Linked DNA regions of Homo sapiens. The protein of the gene in region 1 purifies or fractionates together with the protein of each later gene. This does not show direct contact. Each region holds a gene or a part of one and is shown in the gene's direction. Other genes may lie near its edges. The genes, in order: AHCTF1 and TUBGCP6.

Region 1 (3,809 bases):
CTTGCAGGAGAGGTACTGAACTTGAAAGCCTTAGGAATTTCATGGTTTATGCAGCCCCAGCAAAGGGAAGAGGATTGAGTCTAGCCCAAGGGAGCTTATGTAGGTGAATTGTTCTTCAACCTTACGGGGATCGTGCTATTTAGAAAAGTGTGGATAGTTAGGTAATTTGGGGAATACCATTAAAACACAGTTTGGGGGTTGTTTCTGTTTTTTCCGGTTAATTTTTTTTCTTGGGTGAGAATAGAATAAGTCCTTAAATGTTTTCAGAACTGTTAGCATCATAATTTTCAAGCTTTTGTTGACTGTCTTTTTAGCTAGGGAAATGTAGAATTTCTAGTTAAATTTCAGTCATAATCTCAAAATGTAGTTATTTTGACTGAATGAGAAAGTCTGATTGCTTAAAGGGATAATTTTGTAAAGTAAACCCATAAGTATATGCCATATTAAATATAATTTATGTTTTAAAAGGCACACAGCCAAGGGTCATCAAAAACCTGTGTGCTTCAAGTTAAAACATGTATTAAAATTCTTTAACCAGTCTCTTATCTTTAATTCATTTAGGTGATTGAACAAGAAAAGCTTGAAGCTCAAGATTCAGGAGAAGAGGCTAGGAATCTTTCATTTAATGAGTTATATCCCTCTGGAACACTTAAGCTTCAGTACAATTTTGATACTATTGACCAACAGTTTTGTGACTTAGCTGATAACAAAGACACTGCTGAATGTGACATTGCTGAAGTAGATGGGGAACTTTTTGTGGCTCAAAGCAACTTTACCTTGATATTGGAAGGTGAAGAAGGAGAAGTTGAGCCAGGTGATTTTGCATCATCTGATGTGTTACCTAAAGCAGCTAACACAGCAACTGAAGAAAAACTTGTATGCAGTGGGGAAAATGATAATCATGGACAAATTGCAAATTTGCCATCTGCCGTAACTAGTGACCAAAAGTCCCAAAAAGTAGACACTTTACCATATGTGCCTGAACCTATTAAAGTAGCAATTGCAGAAAATTTACTAGATGTAATTAAAGACACAAGAAGTAAAGAAATTACTTCAGATACAATGGAACAGTCCATTCATGAAACAATACCTTTAGTGAGCCAAAACATAATGTGTCCCACTAAATTGGTCAAATCTGCATTTAAGACTGCTCAGGAAACAAGCACAATGACTATGAATGTCAGCCAGGTTGATGACGTGGTTTCCTCCAAAACTCGTACGAGAGGTCAACGTATCCAAAACGTGAATGTCAAATCAGCACAACAGGAAGCATCAGCAGATGTTGCTACTCCTAAGATGCCAGGGCAGTCAGTCAGGAAGAAAACTAGGAAGGCAAAAGAAATTTCTGAAGCTTCTGAAAACATCTATTCTGATGTCAGAGGACTATCTCAGAACCAGCAAATACCTCAAAATTCTGTTACGCCTAGGAGAGGAAGGAGAAAGAAAGAAGTTAATCAGGACATACTAGAAAACACCAGTTCTGTGGAACAAGAATTACAGATCACTACAGGTAGGGAATCAAAAAGATTAAAATCATCTCAGCTGTTGGAACCAGCAGTTGAAGAAACTACTAAAAAAGAAGTTAAGGTTTCATCTGTTACAAAAAGGACTCCTAGAAGAATTAAAAGATCTGTAGAAAATCAGGAAAGTGTTGAAATTATAAATGATCTAAAAGTTAGTACGGTAACAAGTCCTAGCAGAATGATCAGAAAATTGAGAAGTACTAATTTAGATGCTTCTGAAAATACAGGAAATAAGCAAGATGATAAATCCAGTGACAAGCAGCTGCGTATTAAACATGTTAGAAGGGTCAGAGGGAGAGAAGTTAGTCCATCAGATGTGAGAGAAGACTCCAACCTTGAGTCATCTCAGTTGACTGTTCAAGCAGAATTTGATATGTCTGCCATACCTAGAAAACGTGGTAGACCAAGAAAAATCAATCCATCTGAAGATGTAGGATCTAAGGCTGTTAAGGAAGAGAGAAGCCCCAAGAAGAAAGAAGCTCCCAGCATTAGAAGGAGATCTACAAGAAATACCCCAGCTAAAAGTGAAAATGTTGATGTTGGAAAACCAGCTTTAGGAAAATCCATTTTAGTGCCAAACGAGGAACTTTCGATGGTGATGAGCTCTAAGAAAAAACTTACAAAAAAGACTGAAAGTCAAAGCCAAAAACGTTCATTGCACTCAGTATCAGAAGAACGCACAGATGAAATGACACATAAAGAAACAAATGAGCAGGAAGAAAGATTGCTCGCCACAGCTTCCTTCACTAAATCATCCCGCAGCAGCAGGACTCGGTCTAGCAAGGCCATCTTGTTGCCGGACCTTTCTGAACCAAACAATGAGCCTTTATTTTCTCCAGCGTCAGAAGTTCCAAGGAAAGCAAAAGGTACTTTTCTTTCTCTGCAAAACAGTTTTTCATCTCAGTCACTCTTCAGCTTAAAATTTGGTTATTTGTCCTAAAAATGGTTTTATAGGGAATTTTTCCCCTTCCCCCCTCAAACCAAAATTGATCTTTTAGTAGTAAAGTTTAAAGGTTTCATGTTTCAAAGTTTGAGTTCAGTTATTCAGTATGGTTAACATGACTTAAATCCTGTAACTCACGTAACAGATTTATTTTTTAGAATAGTGTAATTTCTCTTCTGTGAGTTTTATAAATTATAAGTGACTTTTAATTAAGTTTCTTCCAAAATAGTCAATATTTTTAATCTCCCATGTACTGCTGCATTTGGCTCACACCCCAGTGATATCCACAACCCGAAATTGTTTTGAAGGGAAACACCAGTAGCTTTTTACTAAGATACAGAAATTATTTCAATCCATATTCACTATTGCCCACAAACTGGCGCATCTACATGCCCTCATCTTCAGTGAGGCCATCCTTCATTGTCACGAGCTAAGGACTGTATTTGGTTGGTGTAGGTCAGAGCTTCTCAACAGGGGTGATCTCTCCCCAAAGGGAGCACATATATGCATTAAGAATACAAACAGATATACAATATATCTGCAGTAATAAAATTTTAATAGGGGGTGCTTTAAACATGTCTAAAAAGTTAAGACACTGGTGTGGCTGAATAGATCCCATCAGAGTAACTCTCTGTAAAAGTGTTAATGGTTAGGTAAACAAAATGTAGGGGGTTTGTGTTGTTTGTTTGAGGTAGAGTCTCACTCTGTCGCCCAGGCTGGAGCACAATGGCATGATCTCGGCTCACTGCAACATGTGCCCCCTGGGTTCAAGGGATTCTCCTACCTCAGCCTCCCTAGTAGCTGGGATTACAGGCCTGGCTAATTTTTTGTATTTGTAGAGACAGCATTTCGCCATGTTGGCCAGGCTGATCTTGAACTCCTGACCTCAAGTGATCCACCCGCCCCAGCCTCCCAAAGTGTTGGGATTACAGGCGTGAGCCACCACACCCAGCCATGTAGTTGACTATTTAAGTTACAGTTTAATATTTGAATTTCAGCAAAGCAGTTCAGGACCTTATAAATAAAGTAGATGACTTGGCCGGTCACGGTGGCTCACGCCTGTAATCCCAGCACTTTGGGAGGCCAAGGCGGGTGGATCACGAGATCAGGAGATCGAGACCATCCTGGCTAACACTACTAAAAAAAATACAAAGAAATTATCCGGGCGTGGTGGCGGGCGCCTGTAGTCCCAGCTACTCGGGAGACTGAGGCAGGAGAATGGTGTGAACCTGGGAGGCAGAGCTTGCAGTGATCCAAGATTGTGCCACTGTATTCCAGCCCGGGGGGCCAAATAATAATAATAATAAATAAAGTAGATGACTTGTTGTACTGATACAGTTTGA
Region 2 (4,139 bases), on another chromosome or scaffold:
CGCCAGCATCAGGGTCGGGGAGAATGTGTCAGATGTGGCTCCCACCAGGCCACGGTGGAATACCCACGGGCACGTGTCCAACGCCAGCATCAGGGTTGGGGAGAACGTGTCGGACGTGGCTCCCACCCGGCCACGGTGGAACACCCATGGACACGTGTCCGATGCCAGCATCAGCTTGGGGGAGTCTGTGTCAGACATGGCTCCCGCCCGGCCACGGTGGAACACCCATGGACACGTGTCTGATGCCAGCATCAGCTTGGGGGAGTCTGTGTCAGACATGGCTCCCACCCGGCCACGGTGGAACACCCACGGACATGTGTCTGACACCAGCATCAGGGTTGGGGAGAACGTATCGGACGTGGCTCCCATCCGGTCACGGTGCAACACCCATGGACACGTGTCCGACGCCAGCATCAGCTTGGGGGAGCCTGTGTCGGATGTGGTTTCCACCCGGCCACGGTGGAACACCCATGTACCCATCCCTCCGCCCCACATGGTGCTGGGGGCTCTCTCACCAGAAGCTGAGCCCAACACACCCAGGCCCCAACAGAGCCCCCCTGGCCACACGTCCCAGTCAGCGCTCAGCCTGGGAGCACAGAGCACTGTGCTGGACTGTGGGCCACGGCTGCCTGTAGAAGTGGGGCCATCTCTGTCCTCCCCCAGCTCGGGCTGCGGGGAGGGGAGCATCAGCGTGGGGGAGAACGTGTCAGACGTGGCTCCCACCCAACCATGGTGGCCCAACACCCCGGGAGACAGTGTCTCTGAAGAACTAGGTCAGAGTAGGGTGGCTGGTGGTCAGGAGTGGGACTGTGGGACGCACAGAGCCTGGGAGGTAGGCGGGCAGTGGGGTTGGTGGCATGTGAAGTTCCCCTCAGGCCTCCTTGTCAGCCAGGACCTGGGCTGCTGTGGGGGACATGGGAGGGGCTGCTTGAGCCAGGGCCGGCTCGGCTCTGTACCCGCCACAGGCACTCGGCCCTGATGCCCTCGTGTCCACTTGTGTCCACACAGGCCCTGGGAGGAGCGGGGACACTGAGGACCTCTCTCCAAATTGGCCTCTCAACTCACAGGTTAGGTGGATGCAGCCTGGGGGTCCCACAGCAGGCAGGGAGGGCTCTGTCCCTCTAGGTTGTCACGCGGGTGGGTCCCACATGCGATTTTCCTTTTTTTGGCACAAGCTGGTTGTGGGGACAGCGTGCAGTGGGGAGGTGGTTCTGAGGCTGGTGTTTTGTTAGGAAGACACAGCTGCCCAGAGCAGCCCAGGCCGTGGTGAGGAGGCGGAGGCATCGGCGGCGGAGGCTCAGGGTGGGGAGCAGGCCTACCTGGCAGGCCTGGCAGGGCAGTACCACTTGGAGCGGTACCCGGACAGTTACGAGTCCATGTGTGAGTGCAGCAGTTGCTGTTGGCAGGGAGCCCTGGGCTGGCTGGTTCCCAGCACGTGCTCCACCTCCTGTGGGTTGGGGCGGAGCCCTGGGCTAGCCAGTTCCCAGCACGTGCTCCATCTCCTGTGGATGGGGGCGGAGCCCTGGGCTGGCCGGTTCCCAGCACGTGCGTGCTCCATCTCCCGCAGCCGAGCCGCCCATTGCTCATCTTTTGCGCCCCGTGCTTCCCCGGGCCTTCGCCTTCCCCGTGGACCCCCAGGTCCAGTCTGCCGCTGATGAGACTGCTGTGCAGCTGAGCGAGTTGCTGACGCTGCCCGTGCTCATGAAGCGCTCCATCACGGCACCGCTGGCCGCCCAGTGAGTGCCCCTGCCCCTGCGCCAGTCTGCCCACCCAGCCCGTCCTGGCCCGCCCTGACTCCAGCTCCCTCCTGCCAGCATCTCCTTGGTGAACAAGGCCGCTGTCGACTACTTCTTCGTGGAGCTGCACCTGGAGGCGCACTATGAGGCACTGCGGCACTTCCTGCTGATGGAGGACGGCGAGTTCGCCCAGTCCCTCAGCGACCTGCTCTTTGAGAAGGTGGCCTCCGGACACGGGGTGGGGCCAGTGGTAGAGGGGAGGCCGTGGGAAAAGAGAGACTGGCTGCACGCCCACAGCCCCCTGCTGCTCTGGCACAGCCCCATGGGGTGCCGGCGAGTGCCAGGCATGTGCTTGGGACTCCTGGGGACGGTGGTCCCTTTTCTGCCTAGCTTGGAGCTGGGCAAACGCCCGGAGAGCTGCTCAACCCGCTGGTGCTGAACTCTGTGCTGAGCAAGGCCCTGCAGTGCAGCCTGCATGGGGACACCCCGCACGCCTCCAACCTCTCCCTCGCTCTCAAGTACCTGCCCGAGGTGTTTGCCCCCAACGCCCCGGATGTGCTGAGCTGCCTGGAGCTCAGGTACAAGGTCAGCAGCAGCCCTGGCCGCGGGGGATGGGACAGGGGCCTGCCTGCCTGTGGGATGCCTGCTGAGCCACGCCTCCTGGCAGGTGGACTGGCCTCTCAACATTGTCATCACCGAGGGCTGCGTGAGCAAGTACAGCGGCGTCTTCTCCTTCCTGCTGCAGCTGAAGCTCATGATGTGGGCGCTCAAGGACGTCTGCTTCCACCTCAAGCGCACAGGTGAGGCCCCGCTGGAGCCCGGCGCCCCGCACCCCTGGCTGGAGGCTGCGCTCACCTCTGCCCTCTGCCTTCTGCCCTCCGCCAGCCCTGCTGAGCCACATGGCCGGCTCTGTGCAGTTCCGTCAGCTGCAGCTGTTCAAGCACGAGATGCAGCATTTCGTGAAGGTCATCCAGGGCTACATCGCCAACCAGATCCTGCACGTCACCTGGTGCGAGTTCAGGGCCAGGTTGGCCACCGTGGGCGACCTGGAGGAGATCCAGCGTGCGCACGCAGAGTACCTGCACAAGGCCGTCTTCAGGTGAGGCCTGGGCAGCGGCTGCGTCCCTGTGGTCACGGCTCAGCCCACCCAGCAGCACTGCTTCCCCCCAGGGGCCTGCTCACGGAGAAGGCGGCGCCCGTCATGAACGTCATCCACAGCATCTTCAGCCTCGTGCTCAAGTTCCGCAGCCAGCTCATCTCCCAGGCCTGGGGGCCCCCTGGGGGCCCGCGGGGTGCAGAGCACCCCAACTTTGCACTCATGCAGCAGTCCTACAACACCTTCAAGTACTACTCCCACTTTCTCTTCAAAGGTGAGGCCCACCCTGGCTGGGAGGGCTGCGGGGGGGCCAGGGCGGGGCTCACACTGTGGGCAAAAGCCTGAGCTGCTCGCTGGTCCCCAGTGGTGACCAAGCTGGTGAACCGCGGCTACCAGCCCCACCTGGAGGACTTTCTGCTGCGCATCAACTTCAACAACTACTACCAGGACGCCTGAGGCTGCTCTGCGGGGGACGTGCACAATAAAGGTGTTCTCGGACCCTGTCTGCAGCTCTCTCTCCTGGGTGGGGGCTGAGGACAGGGCAGGGTGGGGGAACAATGACCACAGAGACAGACTCGAGGGAGTTGCTGGTTTATTTAGGAGCCTGGGTCCAGCCCCCAGGGACCAGGCTGCACTGCTGAGCCGGCCTCAGACAGAGACGGGTCAGGTCCTGACTGGATGTCTCTGCCATCATGGAAAGACGGGTGTGCATGGGCCAGGGCAGAATCCCCCAGTGTATAGGGCAGCCTGGCATCATCTTGGCCACTCAGCAGCACATGGGGGCCTCGGGAGACTCCAGGGGTGTGGAGCGTGCCGAGGCCGTTACGAAGATCATGTCACGCACAGTTCTGCTGCCCAGAGCGGGGGCTTACTGCTGTAGGAGCGCTGCCTGCCGTCCGCCCCGTCGGCTTCCGTGGCCTCGGCGTCTGTGGCGGCCCCCGCCTCGCAGTGGTAAGGGGTCTCCAGTAGTTTCAGCACCCGCCGCACCTGGAGGATCAGGAGGGTGAGAGGGGTCTGGGGCCGACCCCCCTCCCAGGGACCACAGGGACAGGCGTGTGCTTGCCTCTGAGAAGTCCCCGCGCTCGGCAGCCTCGATGGCATTCTGCGCGATGTAGTTCCTCAGCACGTACTTCGGGTTGTTGGCGTGCATCACGCGCACGTGCTCAGCCTGCCAGGCGGCAGCGTCCCCAGCGCCTTCCAGGTCCTTGTCCAGCCGGGCTCTGGAATGACATCCGGGCTCTGGAGTCACAGCCGGGCTGGACTTTTTCCAGCACGCGACCCGCCGTCCCCCGGTGACCATGGACGCA

What was found.
Region 2: the proteins of AHCTF1 (region 1) and TUBGCP6 purify together in Homo sapiens (affinity purification with western blotting, with the first as the bait; one study listed by BioGRID). This does not show direct contact.

The regions. Positions count from the first base shown.
Region 1 is NC_000001.11:246,848,195-246,852,003, reverse strand, and holds part of AHCTF1 (protein ELYS), read left to right. Parts: coding exon of another isoform or gene 1-19; exon of another isoform or gene 20-99; intron 100-561; coding exon 562-2,389; intron 2,390-3,809. UniProt on the Homo sapiens protein: Required for the assembly of a functional nuclear pore complex (NPC) on the surface of chromosomes as nuclei form at the end of mitosis. May initiate NPC assembly by binding to chromatin and recruiting the Nup107-160 subcomplex of the NPC.
Region 2 is NC_000022.11:50,216,885-50,221,023, reverse strand, and holds the end of TUBGCP6 (gamma-tubulin complex component 6), read left to right. Parts: coding exon 1-773; exon of another isoform or gene 774-832; intron 833-1,008; coding exon 1,009-1,067; intron 1,068-1,232; coding exon 1,233-1,380; intron 1,381-1,567; coding exon 1,568-1,736; intron 1,737-1,814; coding exon 1,815-1,956; intron 1,957-2,126; coding exon 2,127-2,321; intron 2,322-2,403; coding exon 2,404-2,536; intron 2,537-2,621; coding exon 2,622-2,835; intron 2,836-2,906; coding exon 2,907-3,106; intron 3,107-3,196; coding exon 3,197-3,288; 3' UTR 3,289-3,330; downstream 3,331-4,139. UniProt on the Homo sapiens protein: Component of the gamma-tubulin ring complex (gTuRC) which mediates microtubule nucleation.